Regions from separate parts of the Homo sapiens genome. Here region 1 is linked to region 2. A link means that fine-mapping ties the variant in region 2 to the expression of a gene that starts in the linked region. Tissue or cell type: testis. Region 2 holds a variant in brackets; the other region holds the start of a gene. All regions are shown on one strand. Distances are between the middles of the regions.

Region 1 (8,000 bases), 61 kb after region 2:
GTTATGTACTGAATTTTGCACAACTAGACAAAATTTAAAATACTGAAAATTGACTGTTTTATGGATATCATCTATTTAGTAGCATGGAGGGAGAACCTACTTATTTGCAATGCCTGAAATGCCTGTAACTTGAAAGTTTATTTTAATGTATTGGCCTACAGCTGCCAATTGGCCGTGATGCCAATGCTGATGATGGCCAGAACCAATGATTTCAAAGTAACTAACATGTTTCACTTCCATTATACTAAGGCACATACTGAATAACACAAAGGTGACATTAAAACAGTCACTAACATATTTTACTAAACCAGTTTGAAAGTCTTTATTTCAAAAGACTGGGATTTTTTTCCTAATCTTCAAGGGTTCCTCTTAATGCAGTTTCAAAAGTGGCTACCAAAATCAACCATTTAAATACGAGAATTATTCATTCCTTCCAAATAATGTGAACCAATACTACATTGCATAAATGTGTACATATACAATTTTTCTTAAAGTTAATACTTAACTTATAATGCAATATAGGGGAGGCTATTAAATTATTTATATTCCCTTAAAATTCTAGACTCTATCAAGCATTTTCCTATTTCCAAAGATTCAATGTTAATTTGAAACTGTTATGTCCAATAATAATCTGTGCATGAATAAACTGCATTTACAGATATATGAAGTAGCTGCTAAGTGAAAGGACATTACCTGGTAATTTGACAGGAAAAGAGTCCACAGACAGTCTGTAAACCAATTAAACATAAACATCTGATGCACATTTTCTACTGAAAGAAAAGCAAGGGAAAGAAGAGAAAGGAAAACTTTAAGGTTCCCAAATCTACAAACAATTTTTACCATTAACTGTACTGTACAGTATTTTCATTTTATTTTTTAGAAAACTTATATAAAAGTGTTTTTCAGGATTCCTTGGGGGAATAAATATTTTAGCAGAGGTATATAGTTTCTAATAGTTACCCTGTTGAATTATGTCAATCCTCTGGACTTGAAATAAAAATGACTTTTTAAAAGTGTCAGTTCATATCCAAATAGTTTTCAATCAATACACTTAATGAAAAGAGCTGAAGGCAAAGAACAATGGATATACATGGACCTGAGGTGGGTACAGACACAATTAGGGGCCTAGAGGTACAAACTCAGGCTTTATACCATGGAGATGAAGGAGGGTTTTCCATTAACATATGAAAGCTAATTTATGAAATTTGGCTACCAAAGGAAAATTAAAAGTGTTACAATACAAGGTACAGAAATAACTTGCTTAAGTACACTGAATCTTTGATTCTTCAGTTAAACTACCAACAGAAATCCCAACTATGATAAAGAGCAGGGGATCATAGTCTATTAACCTACTGAATGAATCCTAAACTTGTCAGGAAAATGGAAGTCTGAAACATTTCTGAATGGGTATCTATCTTACTGTTAAATAACTCTTTAAGTTTATTAATATTGTGTATCAATATTACTAGTTTTAAATGGTATTATTATTATTGAGGGAAAAAAACTCTCTACATTTTTCCCCTTCCCCTTTTTATAAATGTGGATTCAGTGGGTTTTTTAGGTTCAGATATTATAAAAAAGAAACAGCTCTAATACTGCAATTCATAGGTAACACATTACCACTGAATTCAGTATCCTTCCACTATTATTTTATTTTAGTGATACACCTAACTGTAAAATTTTCAGGAGCCACCTTACGGAATGAAAAGTCTTTCTCAAAACGCTTACTTACCCTCTTCAGTATTAAATATATAAAAATTAACTATTCACTAGTTATAGAATTTTAGTGTTGGATGGGACCTTAGAGATCTTTTAGTCAATTCTCTACCCTGTCAAGATAGTAATCTCTCATCATGCTTCTACTACCAGGCTTTCTGCCTATGTTTAAACCCCTCCAGTGACTCACTATATCTCATAAAAAGGCTGCTCTTTTCAAAAAAAGTTCAAATGTTTAAAACATTCTTTCTTTTATTATGCCAGAATCTACCTCCTTGTTGTTTCCATCCATTACCCTTAGTTCTTCAGCACTTTGGATTAATTCAACAGATATCTTCTTTGTATCCAAATGCAAACAGTTAATATTTATACTTGGGTTAACAAAAAAAAATTTATTTTTAAAGCCTATTCATACTAGAAGAGTTGAAAATAGGACATGAGAGAGCTAAAGGCATAAGAAAATGCACCATTAATTGTGTCTGCTTAAAATTATTACACTTTGTTATTTATTAATGTGATATCCAAAACAGTAGTTCTGTTGGAATTGTGTATAAAATTTTTAAACTAAAAAAGTGTGCTGAATTCCAATTTTATGTGAGGTTTGTGATTAATGTCCCAAAACAAAAAACCACTATACAAAGCCTGAATAAATGCCTCTTCAGCTCCTATTCCCCACCTAAAAGCCTCCTTATTTTCAGGCAAAGTAACATTAATTTTTATGACATTAAGCTACTCAAAACTGCTATTATATTGATAAATCATTTGTAAGCAATTTACTGAATCTTCCATTCAAAAGTTATTGAACAATTCTATAGAGGCTATAAGGCGCACGCACACACAAACCCCTCAGTTATTATTATGCTTTTAACAAAAGCATTTAGGAGCACAATCTTACTTCAACCAGTACCTTAAACGAACCAATGAACAAACTTCTTTGGCAATTTACATATACCTAAGAAATATAACCTTTTATTCAGTACCAACACCTGATTCAAATACAAGTAACATATATATATATACTATATAAACCTATCTGTTATGCAATCCAAAAAGGTACCTCTCAAAATGCACCAAGAAAATACTGTACTTATAACAATTTAGACTCTGGGGTTAGCTGACTGAAATAGATTAATACAACACATCCAAAACTAAAAAATTCTATATCTAACAATTTTCAGCGTCCATGAGTCTCTTTTGAGATTAGTTTATAAACTATTTCCTGAAATTTTTATTTAAAAGCAACAGCCTACACCATGTCTTTATGATGTGGTGGTAAAATTTTATGGATAATTACTAATTTGGTTGAAAATACCTACATCTAAAAAACTTAGCCTATTACATTTGGAAGCCCCACATCTATAGTGACAATCAGCATCATCTTTCGTTAGTTTCATTTTTTGTTATTAATGCCACTCTAAAACACTTATATAGGCTTTTGGTTCTTCAAATAACAGTTTTGGATTTTCTTTTCATAATTTTTACAGTTTTATCCAGTGGCCCCATTTTATCAGAATATTACAAACTATGATTATGGTTTTTACATTGATGACATGTTATTTTTATCTCACCCAAATTCTGGAAATTTTTGGCCCATCAGTTCTCAAACACTGGAACATATAAGAAGAGTAATATAATCTTATATTACTTGAGGGAGTTTGGATTTTCCCTCCCTTAATCTCCAAGTGTACCCCTGCCTACCAGCATCACATCCGTCTTGTCTGCATTGAACCTCAACCAGTTGGTTCTTAACCACGTCCGAAACTCAGCCAGGCACTGGGAGAATCGAGCGACCACACCATCTGGATCAAAGGAAAGAGAGCCTCAGTAGCAAGGAGACAGAAACGATGATACAAGCTCACCATCCACCCTGTTTCGCATTTTTAAAAAGATGGTCGGGAATCAGGACAAGGATCCCATGACAATTTTAGAAAAACATTTAATGAGCCTTAAGTCATGCAATTTGTAACTAATGATAAAGGAATAAAAGCGACCCAATAAATAGGTCGCCTCATTCCACCCATAAGTGAAGAAGGTTCAGTCAACTCCGGGTCATCTTGGTGAAGCGGCCTCAATAGCCAAGTCAATCTTGTAATTACATAAGTTCTTCTGCAGAAATGCAGAATTCTAGCGTTGGAGGAAGCTTTAAATAGGGAAAACTGAAGCCCAGAGAGGGATAGTGACTCGCTCAAGGTTACACAGCATGCAGGGACCACAGATAGGCTCCAGGCCAGGGACCTAGCCACTACAAGCTGAAAGAACAAGAGTAAAGAGCGGCGGGCATCTGTCCCAAGGGATCCTCCCACGCGCTAGGAGGACCTCGTTTCCTTACAGTAATACCCTATTCGAGTCTCTCCTCCCTCCCTGACTCCATCCGAAAAGGGCAAGTTGGCCCAGGGCGCTGCTCACCATAAAGGCTGCAGTGCAAGCGAGAGCCTCCCGGGGATGGGACACAAGTGAGGGAAATACAGGAGAAAGAGGCGGAGCCACAGCAGGGTGGTCAGCTTAGCCCCACCCCGACTGGGATCAGGGACCGAAGCGAACGGGGCGAGGCGAACTCACTCCGCAGCGGATTCCCAGCGCGGCGCCACCACCGCGAAGGCAAAAAGGCGGCGCTGGGAGGCAGTCGATGGCCAGAGGGAGGAAGCTGCGCATGCGCCTTTGGCAGCCGGCGGAGAGCAAGCCAGGCGCGTTCTGCGGCAGCCCCTCCCCGGAAGTTAAGGGTCTTCCGGGCGGTACACTGCCGTGGGGGAGGGGAAGGAGAGAAAGGGGACTGAGGACACCTCAGGAGCCCCTCATCCCAAACTGGAATAGAAGGGGAGAGATGGCTTGTGGAGGCTGCACTTACAGCCGCTGCCGCTGCTGCCGCCGCCACCTTCGCTGCTGCCGCCACCGCCTGAAGAAGCCCCATCCATCCGCCTGCAGCCGGGAGACTCAGAGCCTGGGAGGGGCCTGAGGCCCGGGCCGCCCGCCTCCTTCTTCCAGTCGTCGTCCGGAGCTTCCTCCAGCTCCACCAACCCTCTGCCCTCCCCTCCGCCTCCGCCCTCCTCCTCGGCCTCGTGCCGCCAGCCAACCGCGCGGCCGCTTGTTGAGCCAGGGCTCCACCGTCGCCATGACGCCCGGCAAACATTCCGGAGCCTCGGCCCGAGCCGCTAACGGAGGAGCTTGGGGGTACAGGGACTTCAGAGGCGGCCAAAAAAAGGGGTGGTGCACCACTCCCCAGCTGGTCGCCACCATGCCAGTCTCTCCGGCAGGCAGTCACAAGCAGCAGAACTTCGGGTTGTAAGTTCCGGCGCTAAAAACCGTAGTCCATCCCCCTGGGACCCGGAGGGAGCCCTTCTATTAATAGATACCATTTCTGGATTTGGAAAGGGGCCCTACCCTAACTGGGTTCAGTCTGTAGACCTTGAAGCTCCTAGGCCACAATGTCTCCTTTATCGACCTACCGCAGTCTTTAAAAGAATCTCTACTGGGCTGGGCGCGGTGGCTCACACCTGTAATCCCGGCACTTTGGGAGGCCGAGTGGGGTGGATCACCTGAGGTCAGAAGTTAGCGTCCAGGCTGGCCAACATGGTGAAACCCCGTCTGTACTAAAAATACAAAAAGTTAGCCGGACGTGGTGGCACATGCCTGTAATCCCAGCTACTTGGGAGGCTGAGGCAGGAGAATCCCTTGAACCCGGAAGGCGGAGGTTGCAGTAAGCCGAGATCGTGCCGTTGCACTCGAGCCTGAGCAACAGAGCGAGACTCTGTCTAAAAAATAAGATAAAATAAATCTCTATTGCTGTGCTTGCTGTGTGAGAAAAGACCTGGTTTAGAACCATCGTTCTAGCACTTCTAGTTTGTTAAGGCCTGCAGTCTCTCAAGCTTGATGCTTTCATGCTGTGCCCAGACGTTCAAGAGCCTCAGCTTCTGTGAGCCACCAGGCCGAACATTGCTGTGCTCTGTAGTAGAGGTATTTTATTGTCGTCTCGTCAATACCATCTTACTTTAAAACTAATTCCTGCTTCCAACATTCTGTTGTTATGCAGCAGTTGAACAAGACTGTAGAAAAGCACACAGCTGTGTGGACTTGTCTTACTTTAAATGGTTCCTTAGCGCTGCCCGTAATGCTGCCCACTAAGTTCCCCCAAAATTCCCTAAGTAATTTGTTTTCTCTTCCCCTCTCCAATCTCCTCCACCTCAGCTAATCTTTCTTCAGCGGAACTTGTTGAGAGTTCTTGGGAGAGAACCTTGCATTCTCTCTTGAATATGGTACTCACGCTTTTGTCCATCCTACCACTCCATCAAAACAGCTTCTATGAAAGCCAGCAATAGCCATGCAACCAAATACAATGGCTGATCCACAGTTTCATTCTTTTTGAATGAAGCAGTGTCGGTCGGGTTTATCGCTTCTCGATCTTTGAAAAGCTTTATTTGGGTTCTGAGAAACCACTCTTCCTAGTTCTTGTCTTGGTTCATGGTTTCACCTTTCCCAGATCCTTTGCTGGTATCTGTTCCTCACTACCATAACTAAATACAGTCATGCATCGATGGTGATACCTTCTGAGAAATACCTTGTTAGCCAATTTCAGCATTTTGCAAATATCTTCTAGTGTACTTACACAAACGTAGATGTATGGGCTACTATACACCTAGGCTACAATTGTATAGTAGACTGTACACCTAAGCTATAGTAGGCTATACATCTAGGTTTGTGTAAGTACACTAAATGGTGTTTGCATAATGATGAAAATGCATTTGTTGCTTCTAGGCTACCAACCTGCATAGCATGTTACTGTACTGAATACTGTAGGCAATTGTAACACAATGCTAAGTATTTGTGTATGTAAACATAGAAAAGGTAATGTCTTGTGCTTGAATGTTGTGACAACTACAACGTTGTTAGACAATAGGAATTTTTCAGCTCTGCTACCAGATCACCATTGTATATGTGATTCATTGTTGATGATCCAGGACTGTATTGGTATTGCTGGGTTAGTCCATAAACCTCTTCACTCTGATGTCTTTAATATCACCTATAATGATGATTCACAAATGTTAATCTCTGGCTAAGACCTCTCCCAAGAAAACAGATTTTAAGAAAAAACACCTGCACTTATAAGTTAATAAACATCTCAAACCAAATATATAATATTTTCTGTCTTTTCTAATTAACTGCAATCTTTCTCATTTTAGTAAATGGCAAATTCCACTCTTTCACTTACTCAGGGGAAAAACCTTGGGATTACCCTTGACTTCTATCTTATACCTCACTCTATAAGCAAATTTTACCATTTCTACCTGCCAAATAAATCCAGACTACCACTCCCATGTAAATCACTGTGTTACATTGTGATACCCACCTAAATAGTCTCCTTGCCAACACCCTCCAGGTAGTAATCAATGTGGTTCTGCTCAAAACATTTCTCAAGTTTTTTCCATTTCACTCAGTAAAACTCTTTACAGGGCCCCACAGGATCTCACTATAGACTCTTCCTCTTGCCTAATTACATCCCACGTTGTCCCACAACACATCAGACACACTATATTCCCCCTTTGGAGCCTGTGCATATGCAGTTTTTTGGAATATTGTGCCCCCAGATAACCTCATGACTCACCTCCTTTAGGTAACTGTGTCAAAGAGTCCTTTACCACCCCATATAAAGTAATAATACTTCACCTTTGGAGCTCTTCAGTCCCTCACCTTTGCTTGAATTTTTCCATAAAATTTATTCCTGCCAGGCACAGTGGCTCATGCCTGTAATTCCACCACTTTATGAGGCTGAAGTGGGCAAATTGCTTGAGCTTGGGAGTTCACAACCAGTGGGCAAATTACTTGAGCTTGGGAGTCCACAACCAGCCTGGGCAACATGGCAAACCCCCATTTCTACAAAACATTGAGCCAGGCGTGGTGGCATGTGCCTGTAGTCCTAGCTACTTTGGAGGCTGAGGTGGGAAGATTACTTGAGACCGGGAAGGTGATGTTGTAGTGATCCGTGATCACTGCCATTGTACTCCAGCCTGGTCGACAGAGTGAGATTCCACCTCAAAAAAAAAAAAAAAAAAATTTCTACAAGTTTATTGTGTACCTGCTTATTCATCCATCTTCACCTAAGGATAGTACTCCAAAAAGGCAGAGATTTTTGTTTTGTTCACTACTGTATCCATTGCCTAGATTGAAGAAGGTGCTGAATAAATATTTGCTGAATGAATGAGTGTTTACTTCAGTAACATTGGTTACTGCTTATCTTGTATGGTTTTTGTTTTCACCTTAAGGTATAGAAATTTTAATGTAAAATTAAATTG
Region 2 (8,268 bases):
GAATGGCAGCGGTACAAAGGGCAACTCAGGATGTATCCCCAAAGGCAGAATAGAACAATCACTGGAAAGAGTAGCCAGAGTTAGGCCCTAAGCAGGAGAGACAAATGATTATAGGCTATGCTATAACCTATATGCTAATATGTTCAGTGAGTAAGGGAAGAGGCACTGTGCTTGGATGTGGGTGTATGATGGTGAGGAAAACAGACTCGACCCTCCCCTTCAGGAGGCTTACTGTCGGAGGGGGAAATAGTCATGCAAAACCAAATGGCACCTGGGACAAGTGCTATGAGACTTCTTTAATAAGGGGGTCTGGCCACTCTAAGTCCACCACTCAAAAACAACCGTTACTTTTGGCATATGACCTTCATTACTTTTCCTAACTAACTATACATATACACGAAAATAGATCCCTTTGCCAAAACTGGTATCATTGTTTTCAAAGGTTCTACTACAACTCCCATCTGCTGCAATCCTAAGTGAGTTGTTTTATTCTAACCTACTAGCACTAGCTACAAGAATTTTGTGGCCAGGTGTGGTGGTCACACCTGTAATCCCAACACTTTGGGAGGCTGGGGCAGGCGGATTGCTTGAACCCAGGAGTTTGAGACTAGCCCTGGCAACACAGCAAAACCCTGTCTACAAAAAAATAAAAATTAGGGCGTGGTGGCGCACACCTGTCCCAGCCACTTGGGAGGCTGAGGTGGGAGGATTCCCTTCAGTCAGAGAGGTTGAGGCTGCAGTGAGCAGTGATCATACCACTGCACTCCAGCATGGGCAACAGAGCAAGACGTTGTCTCCGGAAAAAAGAAAAATTGCAGATGTAGTCCACGTATGTTCATGGTGTGTTTTTTAAATGCAAACATTTGTCTACTAAACACTAGAGGCAAATGCATAAGACAACAAAGGAGGCCACACAGCAGAGCAGTTCATAAAGCTTATAATTCAGGATGTTTGAAAGCTCAAAACCACCAGCCACCCAAGTAAATTTCTGTCATGTACAAATATGTGCTTAGAGGGGATTAAGGGAGTACCTTTCAAAAATAATAAAAAAGGATACACTTAGAATGACTGGCACCACTATTAGCTCCTAAGCAGAACTAGTTTCTCATGTTCACTCAGCTAAAGCACAGCTGGTGACAAGAGTAGACTAAGGAATTTGAAAAGCCCCTCTTGGGAACAAGCTCTTAACCTAAATCTAGATTTTCTGGTCAAGAATTTAAAGTGGCTCAGATCAATCTATTCTGATGCAGTTCTCTACCTGATCTTGTTTCTGGAAGAAACCACCCCCAATTTAAGGCCCGTATGTTTTCTTTTTAAAAATGTTTAAGCTCAGACATGGTGGCTCACGCCTGTAATCCCAACACTGGGAGGCTGAGGCGGGAGGATCACTCGAGCCCAGGATTTCCAGAGTGGCCGGGGCAACATAGTGAGACCTCACCTCTACAAATAATAAAAAAAATTAGCTGAGCATGGTGGTGCACAACTGTAAACCCAGCCACTCAGGAGGCTGAGGTGGGAGGATTACCTGCGCCCAAGGAGGTCAAGGCTGCAGTGAGCCATGATCTTGCCACTGCACTCCAGCCTACGCAGCCAACTGAGACCGTCTCAAATAATTTTTTAGAAGTTTATATATTCCTCATATTAATCCAAAGTCAATTTCAGGGATCATCTAACTTTGCTGAGTGAAACCATTTATTTTAGAACTACCTGAACTCTACAAATTCCAGTCAGTGTGCAGAACAACACAGCCAGCTCTACATTCAGTCAACCATTCATGTTAACAACGATGAGAATACCAAAAAGTGAATGTTCTATAACCAGGCCAAATTTGCATTAGGCGTCCTCTCTTCCAAACTTCAGAAAATCAGGCGATTCTCCACCTAATAAATAGTAGTGCTCATGGAACAGTGAATGACAAGAAAAAAGGGATGAGTCCTAAATAATCCACAGCTGCTGTTATGGTAGAACCAGCTCTGCAGGAAATTTTTTTTTTAAAAGACAAAATTTCTTAGGGAAAATCATGCATTTCATGTTGGTTAATTTCCAGCAAATACGAAGTTTGACAAAAGAAAAATATTTAGCTAGACTTACATGGCAAAGAGGAAGGTAAACTCATTTTCTTGAGATCGTGCCTATTCCTCTTTTTGCTGTCTCTGTACTCAGAATACACTTTACTTTTCTACCATTAACACTTTGCTGCCTTCTTGAAGAACAGGGCATGCCGCATCTCTGAAGCCACAAGCCAAGCAAGCATAGTACCTGGTACAAGTATAGGCCGAAATATTTGCTGGATATTAGAGTATATGGAAACATAATGAAAGCTTGTCATCATTGACATTTAAATGTGAAACTGTCACCATCAATTTGGACAATTAGAATCCATCTCATCTCGTTTACATGGCAATTCTTCAATATTCTTCACAGAATAAGTAGCCTTTAAAAGTGTGTTCAAATTACTTCTTACTCAAGAGCAAGCAAAATGACATTTTAATTACATTATACATTCTATAATTCTTTATACTAACTAAAGACAAATTGAAAATAATCATATTCTGAAAAGGAAAAACTCCACGTCCGTATAGTTGGCAAAAGATCAGCACAATACTAAGGGTACATGACAAGAGTTTATGGAAAACTGGTATTAGAAAAGAAAGGTTAATCAGATATTCAGATACATGAAATCAGTCTGTAAGTGGGTGGATGGATGTGTGGAAAACCCTTTAAGATTCTGCAAAGGATGAACTTGATATTAAAGAAGAGAGTTAATTTTTACGGTAAAAAGTTGTATCAGTAGAATTATGTGATACAGAAAAAGTCATTTTGAGAGAAGAGAGTCATTTTTAGAATAAAAGGTTAAAATTTGGAAACTCCTGTTCTTCTGTATGTTACATGGTTTTCCACACTGGCATTTTTCATGAATATGGATTATAGTTGGGAAAACCTTACTATCTGATTTGGTATTTAGTTACACACCCCATGTAAATATTGCCTATTATATTCACCAGCCCTCAGTTATTCCAAGTGCCCACTCCTAATTATCCATCGATAGCAAAGAAAATATTGTGACAAAACAAGTTTTATTTTGCAAAACATAATGTGATATGAACTCCACTACAAAATACGGGAACACATTATTTTTAAATTATATAATCCAGCAGAAGAGAAACAGAGTGAATGGAGGTCTAGGGACTGAAAGGATCTCTTGTGGCAAAGGGGAAGAAGACAAAAATACATCACCCAAGATGTGGTAAAGGGGACCAAGAACCACTGAAAAAGTAGTGCAATATGTCTAGGAATAGAAGAAACAGACTGTGTATATATATATATTTGCCTTGTCAATAACATGCATCATTCAAACAATCTCTAATAAAATCTTAGTGAATTAATCTAATGAAAATATTCACACAGTATTATGTAGGCAAATATGTTTAAAAAAATATTTTAATAAGCATATTCAGAATGGCAGACAAGGAATGGGAGAAGGGAATTATTTTACAGTGCAAAATTACTATGCATAAATTTAACATCTAATTTGAAATTTTAAATGCCTATTTAAATATTACTTCAAATACATTTTAAAGCTCAACAAACTTGTGTTGAACTGAATTGCAGATCCTGAACTCTATTTGAAAATACATCATGAAACAGAAAATACCCATTCCAAATGAAAATGATAGTGCTTTGTTGGGGGTGGGAATGAGGCGGGGAGACTAAATCACTATTAACAGACTTCTTTT[T/C]CCAATGCAATTTGTCAAAAGTTCAAAAGTTCTGAAATGTACTAAATCTTAAGCAAATTAAATTCATGATATTACTAAAACTTTTTAAATAGTGCAATGACTTATCAAGTTATAGTGGCTGCATTAAGAACAAATTATTGTGTGAAATACCTGTATAAACACAAAATACAATTAAATATTTCTTTACAAAAAGCTGAGCATTACGCATAATAGTGGAATGTCTTTCATTAGGTGTATTTTTTAAAGATTAACAAAAGTAACATTTCCTAAAATGTATACATGTGCCATATTTTTGCAAACATGCCTGAGAATGTATTTAAAACATTTCTGTAGTAAGAGTTTGCAAGAACTTCACAAACCTGCAAATAAAATGCATCTTTTTAAAAAGGTGAAAATGGCATCTCCAACACTGCAACAATTCAAAAAGTACAGCATCCCTAATCTTTAAAAACATTTCTACAGACCATCTTTGACAAAGAGCTAGGATACTTTGGATTCATTTAATAAAAAATGATTTAGAAAACAGATTGTGACCATCTGCTTGCTAAAGCTACTGCCATTCTGGATAAATTAAAAGTTTTAAGTAAAACAAAAACAACAAAAAACTCATACTTCTCAACACTTCCACCCAAAACTTTGATTTACTTAGATATGTATGTAACAACAGTGAATGTACATTAAGATGAAGTCAAGTGTTGCAAAGTGGCTTTTAACACTGTTTGGGAAAAAAAGTTGTTCACATTGGTGAAGGGAAGCAGTCCGAACATATGTTAACAGTAATACTTCATGGGGGTAAGGCCTGAATGCTAATTTCTCAGTGCAAACCTTCACTCAATTACATCAGACAGTTGAGCCATTAAAAACAAGACCACAGAAGCTTTATTTTAAAAAGGCATTGGCTCTTGAACTGATGGCTGAAAAATGAACTGGAAGAAGCATTTGGAGTATGCCTGTGTGAGAAAAACAAGAATAATTAATATTTTATAAAAGTTTGGATATAGGTTGGTCTATCAGCTATATAAAACTACATTATTTAACAAGAATTTAGCACTAAAAATAAAATGGCACTTTTACAAGGCTATGCAGATGGATAATCCTATCTGTAATCACACAGAGCAATGATTATTGTGTATCTTATTTTCACTTTGGAAAAGCATTATCAAATCTGAAAAATTGGATTGTAACTAGAAAAGTTTGAAAAGTTTTCAAACTTCACTTTCTCTTCATAAAATCGATACTGCCTGCCAACAGTTGTTCCTTGTGTGTGCCAATATCTAAGTATCACTTGACCCCCCTCCTCTGTTTATTTAATGCAGAAATGGGAAATTTTATGATGCATATAAAAATAACAGGATTCTGGTCAGCATGATATATTTAAGCACTTAAGCTGACATTAAACTTTTGTCTTGCTTCAAAAATAATTTTGAAAATTATAGCAAATGCAAAACAAACTGCAATCTAAGCATCATGCTTAATTTCAGAATTCTCAAATTACTTGCCCTTAAGTAGAAATTTAAAAAAAAAAAAAAAAAAAAAAATTTTATAATCCTTTATGAATGCTTTAACCACCTGGATAAGAAATATGACTTAATTACTACACAAACACTTAAAAATTCATTAGAAAAACCTTAGCAAAATAAAATGAAAGCTGACAGACTCAGAATAACAATTCCTCTCATAAAAGTTTACCAACTGTACAAGTTAAGAAAATTATACACGCTTTTGTATTAAGAAAGGACAGCTCAGTCAAGACATATGTACTGTAAAAATCTTTCAAAGGCTACAAAGAATCTGGAAAAATACAGAATGTATTTCTTAAGCCCAGATAAGAATATGGAAAGACATCATTGATGTCAACAATTTTACATATACAAACCTGACCTGGTTTATTTTTAAACTTCTATATATAAAAAAATCATGCTAGCATAATTTTCAGGATTCGTAAGGGTTTCCTTAATAAAGATACTCAAACTGTTTGGTGAGAAAAATGTCTGTTTTAAAGACATTTCAAGAAACTCAGAGAAATTGGTATTAAGCAGAAATTTGGACTTGAGTTTCCCATTCATCCATCAAACTAAGCAAAAATTACCTTGTAGTGAAATTTTATGATTAATACATCAAATGAGAAGGTACAGATACATCTTTAGTTCATTCAGATTTACCAAAATTAGTAAATCTGAATGAACTAAAGATATTCAAATGAGAAGGTAGAGATATATCTTTAGTTCATTCAAATTTACTAATTTTTAAAATACCCTTAAAAGAGTCTGACAGCTTTAAAGTAAAAAAATCTGCAAAAGGCAGAATTATGAAACCTCATTTCCTAAAGTTAAGACTCAATTCAAATTTTCAAACTGCTTCAAGGAAATCAACTTTTTAAGGTAACCCATCAACCCTGAAAATTTTAGTCACACCAGAATTTACTCCAAAGAAAGTAAAATAGGTCTAAAATTTAGTCATCTGTGTTTTCAAGTTCTTCAAATTTCCCATGTGAGACTGCTTCTTGGAAAAATTCAGAAGAACCTGGACTTTCTTTTCCATTGCTGTTTACCCTTCGCCTTTTGGCAGGTCTCTCACTTTTTTCATCAAAATCATTTTCATTTCTTGCAGTCATATGGGCAAGTTTTGGGTCAGTGGTAAGGTTATCTGTTTCATAACCATTAGTATCCATATCTGCATGAAGTGGTTTCTTATTTCCACCTGTTGGTCCATTAATGTGTAACCCTTCAACTTTTACTTCCTCTTTGTTTAATATTTCACCTGGTCCATTAGATGACACTCCTAAGTTGAAAGAAATATAAATGAAACCACAATTAGAAAAAAGTTAAATTTGCAAACTATTATAAAACAGCTTGTAGTTATTGTTATCAAGGAAGCAAGGTATCAAATACATAGTCTAAATTCTTGCTCTATTACTTATAAGCTATGTCGCCTTAGGCAAATTATTTACTCTTTCTGTATCTCCATTTCATTACATATATACAATGAAGATCATAATAGATATTCCTCACAGGGTTGTTGTGAAAATTAAATAAGTTAATAAATGTAAAGAACTAAGAACAGAATTTGGCATATGTTAAAAGCATATTAGGTATATGTGACAGCAAACAAGCACTGGATCCAGCAGTCTAACTAAGCTGAATTAATGGAAAATGCAGTAAATTACTCAGATTTAACAAAAGGTTTTCAACATTCTAAAACCACGTAAAAGCAAGATGAATGCTCTTTCTTTAAAAAGCTTGAGTAAACTGCCATATAAAAGCAAGATGTCATGACTTTTTTATTCTTAATGTAAATCTATGGGAACTGTACTTTAAAAGATCACACAAGGCTGGGTGCAGTGGCTCACGCCTGTATTCCCAGCACTTTGGGAGGCCAAGGCGGGTGTATCATGAGGTCAGGAGTTCAAGACCAGCCTGGCCAATAGGGTGAAAACTTGTCTCTACTAAAAATACAAAAATTAGCCAGGAGTGGTGGCGTGCACCGTCTCCCAGCTACTCGGAAGGCTGAGGCAGCAGAATCACTTGAACCCAGGAGGCGGAGGTTGCAGTGAGCCGAGATTGTGCCACTGCATTCCAGCCTGGGCGACAAAGCGAGACTCTGTCTCAAAAAGAAAAAAAAGATGATCACACACTATTTACCTAAGTAGACTTAAATAATCTGTCATAATGTTAAAAAACTAATGCCGCACTATCCAAGCATATACTTGAAAGTGCTAAATTATTTACTTAAGTAAATACAAATTACTTAAAAAGTAAATACAAATTCTATAGTAGGTGAGAAAAGTAAAAGCAAAATTATTCTAATAAAAGAAAACAAAAGTTCATTTTAGAGTTGACTGTAAAATGGAATGCAAATTTTGGTGATAAGAAGTAAAATATAGGGTGCATCACTGAATAATTACAATTTAATTGCTTGAAAAATATTCGGCATAAAGGATGAGCCTCAAATACTGTATTCTGATAGAAGAAAATATTCTATTTTGACCAACTCAATGCACTCAAATCATGAATGCACATGGGGATTATGCATCATAATATATTGAAGAGAACAATTCTGTAGGAACAAGTCCAAAAAGCTAGCTGACGACTGTGATTAGGTCAAAAATAACTGTAAGATTTCAAAGTACTAATTAAAGCCCCATATAAAAAAGTAATATAACATTGGGATGAAAAGTTCCTTCCTTCCTTTGAAAAAGCTGGCAGTTTTGACTGTACGTAATGTTGAGTGGCTTTTGAGCTACAAGTAATTTATAAGTAACTTATGAACACTTTCCTAGCCTAACAGCATGTTCTCATCAAATAGTTTCTTAAAAAGGAAAAGAAAATGATTTGGTGTTAATATGTTAAGAACAAACAGGAAAAACAATAGTAGTACCAACTGTCTGCCTCCCTTGAGCCTATACGGTTAGTCCCAAGGTCAGAGTCTCAGCATCTTATTCTACTTCAGAATGGACGTGACAAACATTAGACATCAAGTCAATAAACCTTCTTGGACCAGGACATAGTTACTGGGCCCTAAGTTTTGTTTG

Evidence for each region. PIP is the estimated chance that this variant, and not a neighbour inherited with it, causes the effect.
Region 1: it holds the start of MIER1, and the variant in region 2 is fine-mapped to the expression of MIER1 in testis (GTEx, PIP 0.94).

What each region holds. Positions count from the first base shown.
Region 1 is chr1:66,921,657-66,929,656 of GRCh38, reverse strand. It overlaps MIER1 (MIER1 transcriptional regulator), which reads right to left and starts at 4,667. Exons shown (of 14, transcript NM_001077700.3): 1 at 4,562-4,667; 2 at 3,415-3,515. The coding sequence starts at 4,628. DNAI4 (dynein axonemal intermediate chain 4) reads left to right here and starts at 4,801. Exons shown (of 17, transcript NM_024763.5): 1 at 4,801-4,995. The coding sequence starts at 4,826. RefSeq lists enhancers at 4,369-4,648, 4,939-5,098 and a silencer at 4,679-4,798.
Region 2 is chr1:66,982,822-66,991,089 of GRCh38, reverse strand. It overlaps MIER1 (MIER1 transcriptional regulator), which reads right to left. Exons shown (of 14, transcript NM_001077700.3): 14 at 2,471-6,518. The coding sequence ends at 6,190. It also overlaps a transcript of SLC35D1 not described here. Among named protein-coding and RNA genes, the nearest start is that of MIER1, 62 kb to the right of the region's middle. RefSeq lists silencers at 6,317-6,517, 6,505-6,554. The variant T/C (reference allele first, on the strand shown) is at 3,738.